2 linked regions of the Homo sapiens genome follow. The protein of the gene in region 1 purifies or fractionates together with the protein of each later gene. This does not show direct contact. Each region holds a gene or a part of one and is shown on either strand. Other genes may lie near its edges.

Region 1 (5,600 bases):
CTCTGGGAGGCCGAGGTGGGTGGATCACCTGAGGCCAGCAAGCCTGGCCTTGTCAGCCTGGCCAACAAGACGAAACCCTGTCTCTACTAAAAATACAAAAAATTAGCCGGGCGTGGTGACGGACGCCTGTAATCCCAGCTACCTGGGAGGCTGAGGCAGGAGAACTGCTTGAACCTGGGAGGCGGAGGATGCAGTGAGCTGAGATCGCACCACTGCACTCCTGCCTGGGCAACAGAGCGAGACTCTGTCTCAAAAAAAAAAAAGTGCTGAGATTACGGGCGTGAGCCACGGGGCTTGTCCCACAGCCCTCAGTCTTTCTAACGTATTCTCCAGAATTCGCAGCTCCTACCTTCATTGTCCCTCTGAGGCCACCACCCCTTTCTCAAGAACTTTTCAGGGAGTGTCCCCTGCCCTTGAATGGTTCATCTCAGGCCCATCCAAAAGGACCCCCCCAATTCCTTTTGAGAATGGAATCTTCCACTTCCTTGGTTCTTCCCTGAATGAACCCTCCCGGCAAGCCTCCCCGGGCGTGGAATAGATCCTCCCAGCTCCCAGCTCCACCCCAGGGAGAGATAGGGGGTATCTCACCTGCTTTCTTGCTGGGGGGCGTCTCTGCCCCAGACCCAGGCCCCACCATGCTGAGCTTGGTGCTGGGGTGTCTCCGGGGCTTGGCAGGGGGTCTTCGGGTGCTGCTGTCCTCTGTGAGGCCCCCACTGGCCCCGCCAGGGCCACCCCCGACACTGTCCATGCTGCCCACCGAGTGGCAGGAGAGGGAGCGTGGGGCCATGGCGCTGCGGCAGGGGTGCGGGGTGTGCTCCTGGGAGGCGGGCATCGTCATGAAACCCATCCTGAGGGAGCGCCGCAGCGAGGCGATGTCCCGCACGCGGACCCCAGGCCCCTGGCCGGCCGCGGGCCCAGCCGAGCCAGCGGGGGCCACCTCCTTACTGGAGCTGGGGAGAGAAGGCCACGATGGAGTGGAGGAAGGGCCTCGGACCTGGGCATCCCCCTTCTCCACCCCAAGAGGTGTCAGCAACCCTGTGGCTTCCCAGGGAAGAGGACGGGAGCCTGGGTGGGGACAGGGTTGCCAGAAGGTCCAGGGCACCAATGAAGGGGCTTCAGGCAGAATCTTGGGCTTTAAAAACACAAGGCAGTTGGGGGCAGGGATGAGAAGAGGGGTGAGTATGCCTGCAGGGGAGCATCCCTGGGGCTGGCGGATCCCAGCCTGGGCACCTGTGTGGACAGCCTTGTGCAGAGGTAGAGATACAAACCCAGGTAACACAGATGGACACGCCTGCCCCCCACAGCTCCTTGGCCCCTCTCACTCTCACAGTGGCCCACACCTGGCCTCTGGTTACCCCTCCTGCCCAGCCACTGTGACCTCTGCCCCCACGGCACACCTCCTCTCCCAGATGCAGGATGTGCCCCTCCAGGACCAGAGCAGCCTCCCTCCCTGGCCCATCCTTCTTCCTCCCTCTCCCCTGGTGCTGTTCTCTCTCTGTCAGCCTCCCCGGCTCACCCCCATTCCATTCCACTGTCCCTGAGCTTCTGTCTGAGTGGAGGGTGGCAGAGGGTTGGGGGGGCGGCTGGCAGGGAAGAGAGGAGAGCTGTGTGGGGTGGGCACTCATTAAGGCCCTGTCTACTAGCCCTTCATTAGGGAGAGATCGCTGCAGCGATCACTCTGATTAATCTAATTAACAACAAGAATTAAACTCCACAGTTGCGAGGAAGGAAAAGGGAGGTGGCTGTGAGTCAGGCTCCAAGTGGCTGTGAAGTCAATGGGAGAGAAGAGGAGAAGGAGAGAAGGATGGGAGAGGCCAGGCCCCAGGTCCCTGGAAGGGCAAGCGGGGAGGCAGACAGGGATTGCAGGGGTCTGGAGGTCGTCCCCTGCCCTGGCTCTTTGGCAAGGCCCAGCCTGCATGTCTGCCCACCACACACACAACCCCATCACTTGACCACTCACCTCCCCCAGCAGGGAAAACTGGGAGGAGGCCAAGTGGATGTTCTCTGATGCCCCTGAAATGACCCCTTCCCTAGACCCTGGGAGAGAGGCGGGGCCTGCCCCTTCCAAGGTCAGGTGACAGGAGAGCCCGCAGCCAGCCCCAAATTTGCAGAAAGGAGAAGGGCTACAGGCCAGAGGTGAGTCAGGAAGGAGTGACTCGGGCCTCTGGGGATGGGGAACAACCAAAGGGGTGCTCCTAGGCTGTAAACCCCCCCACAGGAGAGCAGGAGTTGGGCCAGGACAGTGTGTGCAATCCTGGCCATTCCGTACTGACTCTGAGATCAGAGAGCTCACTCATGACAAGGCTGCCGGCCCCCGAGAAGGGCTGTGGCCCAGTGAGGGGGCAGGCAGAGGTGCGGAAGGGAAGGGAGCAGTCTGGGGTGCAGCCTTACCTCCTCTTGGCCTCCTCTTCCTTGTGCTGCCTCCACTCCAGCTTGGTTTTTCGGTAGAGGAGGTTCATCTCGTGGGGCAGGAGGTGGGGGCTGGGGGGCCCTGCTCAGTGCCACCAGGCCCGGGGGGCGGCCCTCCCTGGGTCCCGGATCCACTGGCGGGCGGGGTGGGTGAGAACGGAAAAAAAAGAAAGGTGGGATGGGTGGGGGCCAGGGATGAATGAAAGAGAGAAAACGGAGAAGAGACATGACTCGGGTCCTCAGAGAGGAAAACACAGACAGAAAACCCAACACAGCTTCGAGGACCCACAGACAGACAGACACAGACCCCGACAAAGGTGTTCAGAGCCCCAAATACACACTCTGGAGAGACCAGGTCAACACAGATTCCCTTCTTGTGTAAAGACATCCCGATCCACCACCCATACAGGCCCCACAAACGGACTGCAACCCCTCAGCTACACAAGTACACATTCAGACACACAAACCACGGAGCCACCGACCCACATCTACAGACAGAGGACCAGACGCAGAGATTGGCATAGGTAAACAGAAACCTAGGGATAGACAGGCACACAGACATAAACACCCACAGACACACCCACAGACCTCCAGACACACACAAATCTGCTACACAGAACTGGACACACCTACAGGCAGAGTTATGCCCAGGGCCTACTTGCGTACATTGCACCCCACTGGGAAAAGGGGAGATGGTCAGACTCTCCCCCCTATCTTGGGCTGTAGGGGGATCTCATGAGGGCAGGGTGGGGACGCTGAAGGAAGGATGGGAGACACCCTGAGTTGGGTATCTAAAATACCACCCATCCATCTATCTCCACTGCCTGCCTTCCCCCACTTCCAGTCCTTCCCCGGGCCTGGGCCTTGGTCCACCCCGATTCTGGCTCCCTGGCCCTTTAGCAATGGTTTAGTCTCTGCCTCCCTCCCTCGCTGATGGCCCCAATCACCTTCTTCTTCCTCCAGGATTTGGGAGGCCCCCTGGTTTTCCTCTTCCAGTCCCCGCCCCTCAATCCCACCCGGGGGGCTCCAGTCTGGCCCCACTGCTACCTTCTGGGCTGCGGCCTCCATACCTGCTCCGGTTTTCCTTCCCCCAAACCCACACTCTTCTTTTCGCCTTCAGCCTCACTTCTCCTCCCAGGCGCCCCTCCTTACAGCCGTCCTCCCCCTTCCCCTGTTCCAAACCTGGCCTGCTTCATCCCCCTTCTCCATCCAAGGGCCCCAGGTTCCTGGCACCCCTCCCCTTCCCCTTGTCCTGCTACCCTGGGCTTCTCCGCCTTTCGCTCCGCCAATCCTCCCTGTCCCTTGTCCCCCCACCCCAACCTTCCTGCACCAAGCCTCCCCAGGTTCTCCATCACCGTACCTGGCCTGCCGGGCGCCGGCCCCCCCATGCCGGGCTCCGCCCGGAGCAGGAGGAGGGAGGAGGAGAGACAGAGACAGACCGGGGGGAGCGAAGCTGGGCCCTGCCGCAGAGACAGCCCCGCCTCCGGGTCCGCCCCCAGACCCGCCCCCGGCCCCAAACCCACCCTTCCACACCCTCCAAGGACGGAACGGGAGCGGCCGTGCGGCGCGGGGCCGTGGGGCTGGGGCGCGGGGCGGGGGAGCCGCGGAGCCTGCGGGGGCAGATTCGGAGGAAGGTCGTGGGGCGCTGGGGGCCCGGCGCCAGCCCGTCGCGGTCTTTGGGCGTCCGCTCCTCGCCGCCCCTCGCCCCCTGCCCGGCCGGTCGGTGCTGAGTTCGGTCTCCCCGGCCCCGGCGGAGCGGCGTGCGGCGGCGCCCCCCAGCGGCAGCCTGGGGCCCACGCCCCCGCACCGTGTACCCCGTGCACCCCGTGCAACCCGTACGCCCGGCGCGCCCCGGGTCCGCACCCAGCGTCGGTCCGGGGCCGAGGCTGCGGCTGCGGGGCCCGGGGTGCAGTGAGGCGCTGGGGCCGCCAGGGGGTGCCGCTTTCCGGGCCGAGGGGCTCCGAGGGTGGGGAACGGGACGGGCGGCGGCTCAGCCCAGCAGGGGGCGTGCTCCGGCGGCCGCGCCCCCTTTCCCCACCGCCCCCAGGTGCCAGGAGAGCACCTGAGTTGGCTCGCGGGGGAATCGGCTGCCTCCCCCTGCAGCCTCCCGGGGGTGCCCGGATCTCGTTCCACCGTCTGGGCTCAAAGCTATCCGCCCCCGTGGCCCGAGTCCTCCTCTCGTGACCTTTGACTCCCCCGGCGCCGCTCGCAACGACCAGGGTCGACCTGAGTGTGGCCACCGCGGCTACCACCCTGGCACTGTCGGGGGGCCGCTACGGGACGTGACCTCGACCTCCCCTTTTCTCATTTATCTTTTCTTTTCTCATTATCTCCCCTAGAAATAACTCCCTCTGAAATCCCTTGGGCTCACAGCTCTGCAGCGGGGGTAAATCAGCTCGAGAAGACCTCGGTTGTACCTTCCACGGGCTGGAAAATGGGCACGGCAAAGATAGGCACGGCCTGATCCCTGGAGCCTGCGAATGCTACTTTCCATGGCAGCGTCTTTGCAGTCTTGCTGTGTGGCTTTAGGCAGATCGTGCAACCTCTCTGAGAGACGCTTTAGTCCGGGGATGTCCACTCTTTTAACTTCCCTGGGCCACATTGGAAGAAGAATTTGTCTTGGGCCACACATAAAATACTCTTAACACTGGCGGGGCGCGGTGGCTCACGCCTGTAAATCCCAGCACTTTGTGAGGCCGAGGCTGGTGGATCACCTGACATCAGAAGTTTGAGACCAGCCTGGCCAACGTGGCAAAACCCCGTGTCTACTAAAGATAGAAAAAATAAGCTGGGCATGGTGGCCTGCGCCTGTAATCCCAGCTACTCGGGAGGCCAAGGCAGGAGAATCGCTTGACCTGGAAGGCAGAGGTTGACGTGAGCCCAGATCGGGCCACTGCACTCCAGCCTGGGTGAGAGAGAGAGACTTTGTCTCAGAGAAAAAAAAAAAAAAAACGAAAACAAAAACAAAAACCAAAACTTAGGCGTTTTAAGAAAATTTACCAATTTGTCTTGGGCCACAAGCTGCCCGTGCGGTTGGACAAGCTGGCTTTAGTCCATTCTTTGGAAGGGGAGGGGTAGTAAAATAATACCAAAGTGCCTTGTAAATTGTAAAAGGTCCCACATATTATAGGCTATTAAGAATGCTCCCAGGGGAGGGAAATATTAAAACACTTAAAACCCATTTCACATTT
Region 2 (5,051 bases), on another chromosome or scaffold:
GAGAAGCTGCCAGAGAGAGATGTCATGCAAAACTCCCGACTCCCTCACCAGCTCCCAGGAATTCCAGTGCCCACCGGGAAGCTTCTATGATAGGCAACGTGTCCCCTAGACCAGAGTCACGGTCTCCGGTCACAGAAGGCAGAAGACTGCCCTCCTTCAACAAACCTGCCGAATCTCCTGAATGTTACACGCACCGCACAAAGATAAAAACTCAACAGCACCATCACTAGGAACACAAACAAGGTCTCTGGGATCCTACATTCAACTGATTTCTAGGTACAGCTGTCTCAGTTTAGGGAATGATTTTTGCTGTGGCTTTTAATCCCAGAATTAACAATACACACAAACTGGAAAGGGGAAAATGGAGAAAATTCTAAGTATTGTTTTATTTACAGAGACCATTCTGTAATAAACTGTCTAAAATGGTGAGTTTCCTTCCTACTCTAAAATCATGGTTTATCAAATTCAGTTCACTTAGAACTTTTCAGAAACACTGTTATGAAATACTTATTAAAATGAAAAATGTACATACCCTTTGGTCCAGCAGTTTCATTTCTAGGAATTTGTCACTCATGTGCCTCATGCCAGAGGTGCCAGGATGTTCACAACAACATTACTTGCAATGGTGAAAGGTTGGAAATAATCTAAATGTTTATTATTAGGGGAATGGTTACATACACTATATTTAATTCATACAATAGAATACAATGCAATCTAACAATGAGTGAGCTCTCTATGTACCAATGTAGAATAATATCTAATATATTAAAAGCAAAGGGTAAAACAGCACATATGGCACAATGTGTATGTGTATTTGTTGGCACATGCATAAATTACATCTGAAAAATACCAAAGAAACCAATAAAATGCCTCCAGAGGAAGAAGTGGGGATCAGGAGACAGGAAGCATTGGAGGGATATTCACATTCTCTTTTGTCTCTTTTGAATTATGAACAACTTATAGGTATTACCTATTTAGGCAACCCTTTTAAAAAGAAACATAGCTATGAGTTAAAGTAAAAATGCCTTATTTTATTTGTTCGACTAATATTCATTGTCTACCCCTGACCCACAAGTGTGATAACGAGATACGCAGTCAGGAATTTGCTAAGGCTTTGGTCCTATCTGTTTGACAGTCTCCTTGGCACAGAAACAGCCAAAGTTCAACTCAGTCAGCTTGGAGATCTATCTGAAGTCTCAGAGGAGGAGGCAGTTCATATTTTCAAAGTGTTCAAATTAGCCTGCAGTAAACTTAAAAGCAGATGTGACAGCAAGATCAGATGAGTTTTGAAACTTACCAGCGGTATCTTTTCAAACCATATAAAATAGGAGTTTTTTGAGCTTTTGCTGTGTGGCAGCAGCAAGAGTCAAAGAGTAGCTACTGGCTTGGCCCAGAGAAACCAGCTAGTTAACAGTTTGGTGTGGAATTCACAAACCCCTCAAACCTTTGTCTATCTGGCAAAGAAAACACACACACACACACACACACCACCCTAACCCCAGGAATCTCCTCTTTCTAAATATAGCAGGAAACTGCCCAGTCTCCAGCTTACCCAGGGCAGCATTCTGTGCCTTCCAATCAAGGTGAAATGAGCCAGACACAAACATGCCATGACAGCTCGTGGCCCACACTGCCAAGCTGTTTTCCTTACCATTTCCTCTCTCTCCATTCTGAGGTGCTACAAAAATGTGTAAACCCCAGTCACTATAATTTGTAAAAATTCCTCTGGCTGCTAATGCTGTTGTTCTCACCCTAAATAAACATGATTTCCTTCCTAGTCCCTGAGCCTGGAGGTTAGAATAGACTCTTAGATATGGGCAAAGCCCCATCCCATCTCCCATCTGACCTATAAGAACATGCCACTCAGAAAGCATATCAAGCAGTTCCAGGGCTAATAGGGACACATCCAATTAATTGTCATCTCTCTTTCCCTGGCACACATACACACACACTAAGTTTTTTTTTTTTTTCTATCCCTTGGTTGTTTTAAAATCAGTGTCAGTGTCTAACAGAAGGGTCTGTTAAGGATGCTTCTGATTTAACCAAAAGATTAAGCTTCAGAAACAATCTAACATACTCAAAGGAGCACCAAATTATCAACCGGCTACAAGGATGCAAAGGACCTAAACAACAGATGTCAAAGGGCTTGTAAAAACTGGAGCCAGCAACCATTCCACTTGAAGGAATCCATCTCAGGGAAATGCTGGAATCCACACACAAAAGCAGGTGTGCAAATAATCACTGCAGCACGCCTTCTAATAGTGAACAACAGAGACAATCCAAATATCCTTCAACAGGAAACTGAGTAAATACCAACTATGGCATATCCACATAAAGCTCTCTGCAGTCATTAAAAAGAATGCACTACATGCATGTACTGACATGGAAGGTCTTCAAGACAAATGATCAACTCGAAAAGCAAAACACAAAATAATCCTTATAGTATAATCCCATTTATGAAAAAAACACGCAGAAAAAGGACAAGAAAAAATGCATACCAAACTGCTAACAATGATTGTTAGCTAGGAAAAGGGGGTGCTTTTACACTGTATACGTCTATACTCTTTGATGCTTGCATGAGAATGTATTCAGGAACTATCCATGTCATAATATTTTGTCTTTGCATTATAAGATTAGGTCATTCATTCATATTGTTAATTTTACCCCTAAACCTAATCCTTCCCAAGCAAACTATTTTAGCAAATAGTACCATCATTCACATAACTGCTCAGGCCAAAAATATCTGAATCATTCTAGACTTCTTTCTTTTCTCTCATAGCCCATATGCTGTGCAGCAAATCCTGTGGGCTCTACTTCCAAAAATACCCAGCCTCTGACCACCATCTGTGATGCTGTCACCCTAGCCCACGGTGCCATCATCTCTCACCTCAACTATTACAACAGCTTCCTTACTGGTCATCTTGCCTCCATTGTTGCTCCACTACGCTTGGTCTCTACACAGCTGCCTACATAATCTTTTTAAAGTATGAGTACGATCATGGCACAGCCTTCCATGGCTGCCCATCACACTTAGAATAAAACTCTAAGTCCTTTCTAGAATTCAAGATCCCTATGACCTTGCCCTGGCCTATCTCTTTGTGCATTCGCCTTCACTCTGCTACAGTCACAACTGGCCGCGCCACTGGCCCCCAAACATCCCACTCAATCTCCCCGCTAATGACTCCTACATTGGTTACCTCCATCCAAAAAGCCATTACTCTAGTCTAGGGCTCTGGAGGACATGGTAAAGGCAGAGCAGGGTCTCCGTATTTCCTGAACGAAACTCTTCTTCTGATGGCAAAAAATATATAATTTGAAACAGAAGGGGTTATAATTTTAAAAGGTAAAACGAGGCTCACTCAGAAACTTAAATCTAGAAAAACTACTTTGACTGCTAGGTTAGTATTCCTCCACTGGCTAATTTTTAGAAATGCAATGACCTTGACAGGATAACAAAGTCCCCTTTACAACTTGCTTTCCCCAGTAGCTCAATGGTGATAACAGTTCTTCCTTGGCCGGTTCTCATTTTGTCCATTGAGAGGGCTTGGATCATTAGCTTATGCAGGCCAGAATTAGGAAGTCCAGCCTGTGTGGCATCTGCCCAGAGCGATGCCCACTGGCCTAACAAGAGCAGAAATCTGAACCACAGCCTCATAAGAACCACTTCCTAATTCCTGAGATCCTGAAACTGATCAGTTAAATACATCTAAGGTTGAAGCACATGGAAACAAATAGTCCCCAAAAGAGGGCAAATGGAGAAAATATACTAAGTGCTGTTCACTTAATCATCAAAAGTTTTATGAGACAAAGTAAAGGAAAAAAAAGATCTGAATAGACATTTCAGCAAAGATGACGCACCAATGGCCAACAAACACATGAAAAGGTGCTCATCCTCATTGGTCACCAGGATAATGCAAATTAAAACCACAACGAGATACCACTTCACACCCACTAGAGTGGCTACAATCAAAAAGAAAGACAACAACAAGTATTGGCGAGGATGTGGAGAAATCAGAATCCTCATACATTGTTGGTGGGAATGTGAAACGGTGCTTCTGTTATGGAAAACAGTATGGTAGGTTTTTTTAAATAAACACAAGTTTAAATTAAACTTAAACATAAATTTACCATACAACCCAGCAAAATTCTACTCCTAGGTAAAAAATGAAATTAGAAGTGAAAACATATATACACATGAAGACACGTATGCAAACATTCATAGCAGCATTATTCATAAGAGCAAAAAACTGGAAATGACCCAAATCATCAGCTGGTGAATGGATAAACAACTTATGGTTTACAAAATGGAATATTTTCTAGCAATAAAAAGGAACAAACTACTGATACATGCTACAACACGATGAGCCTCAAACACAGCATGCTTAGTGAAAGAAGCCAGATGCATAAGACTACATATTATATGATTCCATTTAGCTTAATTTTTCAGGGAAGAGAAATCTATAGAGACAGAAAGTAGTAGATCAGTGGTTGTATGAGGCTTCAGGCAAAAATGCAGTGCCTGCAAATGAGCATGAGAAAGCTTTTCGGGGTGCTAAAAATGTTCTAAAACAGGACTAGGATGATGGTTGCATAACTCTGTAACTACAAACCACTGAATTATACACTTAAGAAAAGTGAGTGGCTAGGAGCCGTGGTTCATGCCTGTAATCGCAGCACTTTGGGAGGCCAAGACGGGAGGATCACCTGAGACCAGGAGTTCGAGACCAGCCTGGGCAACAACAAAGTGAGACCCCCATCTCCACAAATAATAAAAACAATAAAAAATAAAATCTTAAAAGGTGAATTTTATGGAATGTAAATTATAATTCAATTAACCTTTTATGAAAAATTCCCCCAAAAACATGCTGACCTGAAGCAAGTAACTGCTTTGAAAGGAATAAATATAAATATAGTGTTCTTGTGAGAGACAACCATGATCAATTGGTATGTCAATTCCAAGTGTTAGTGATCATACTGAAGGGAAACGAAATGGAAAGAAAAAAATACATTTTTATGACTTTAAAAGAGAAAGAATAGTCTTTCCTAATGAC

What was found. Proteins that work in one complex are often made in the same cells at the same time.
Region 2: the proteins of NYAP1 (region 1) and ARHGAP26 purify together in Homo sapiens (affinity purification with western blotting, with the first as the bait; one study listed by BioGRID). This does not show direct contact.

Annotation. Positions count from the first base shown.
Region 1 is NC_000007.14:100,482,171-100,487,770, reverse strand, and holds the start of NYAP1 (neuronal tyrosine-phosphorylated phosphoinositide-3-kinase adapter 1), read right to left. Parts: upstream 3,845-5,600; 5' UTR 3,770-3,844; intron 2,544-3,769; 5' UTR 2,460-2,543; coding exon 2,392-2,459; intron 951-2,391; coding exon 589-950; intron 1-588. UniProt on the Homo sapiens protein: Activates PI3K and concomitantly recruits the WAVE1 complex to the close vicinity of PI3K and regulates neuronal morphogenesis.
Region 2 is NC_000005.10:142,775,862-142,780,912, reverse strand, and holds part of ARHGAP26 (rho GTPase-activating protein 26), read right to left. Parts: intron 1-5,051. UniProt on the Homo sapiens protein: GTPase-activating protein for RHOA and CDC42. Facilitates mitochondrial quality control by promoting Parkin-mediated recruitment of autophagosomes to damaged mitochondria.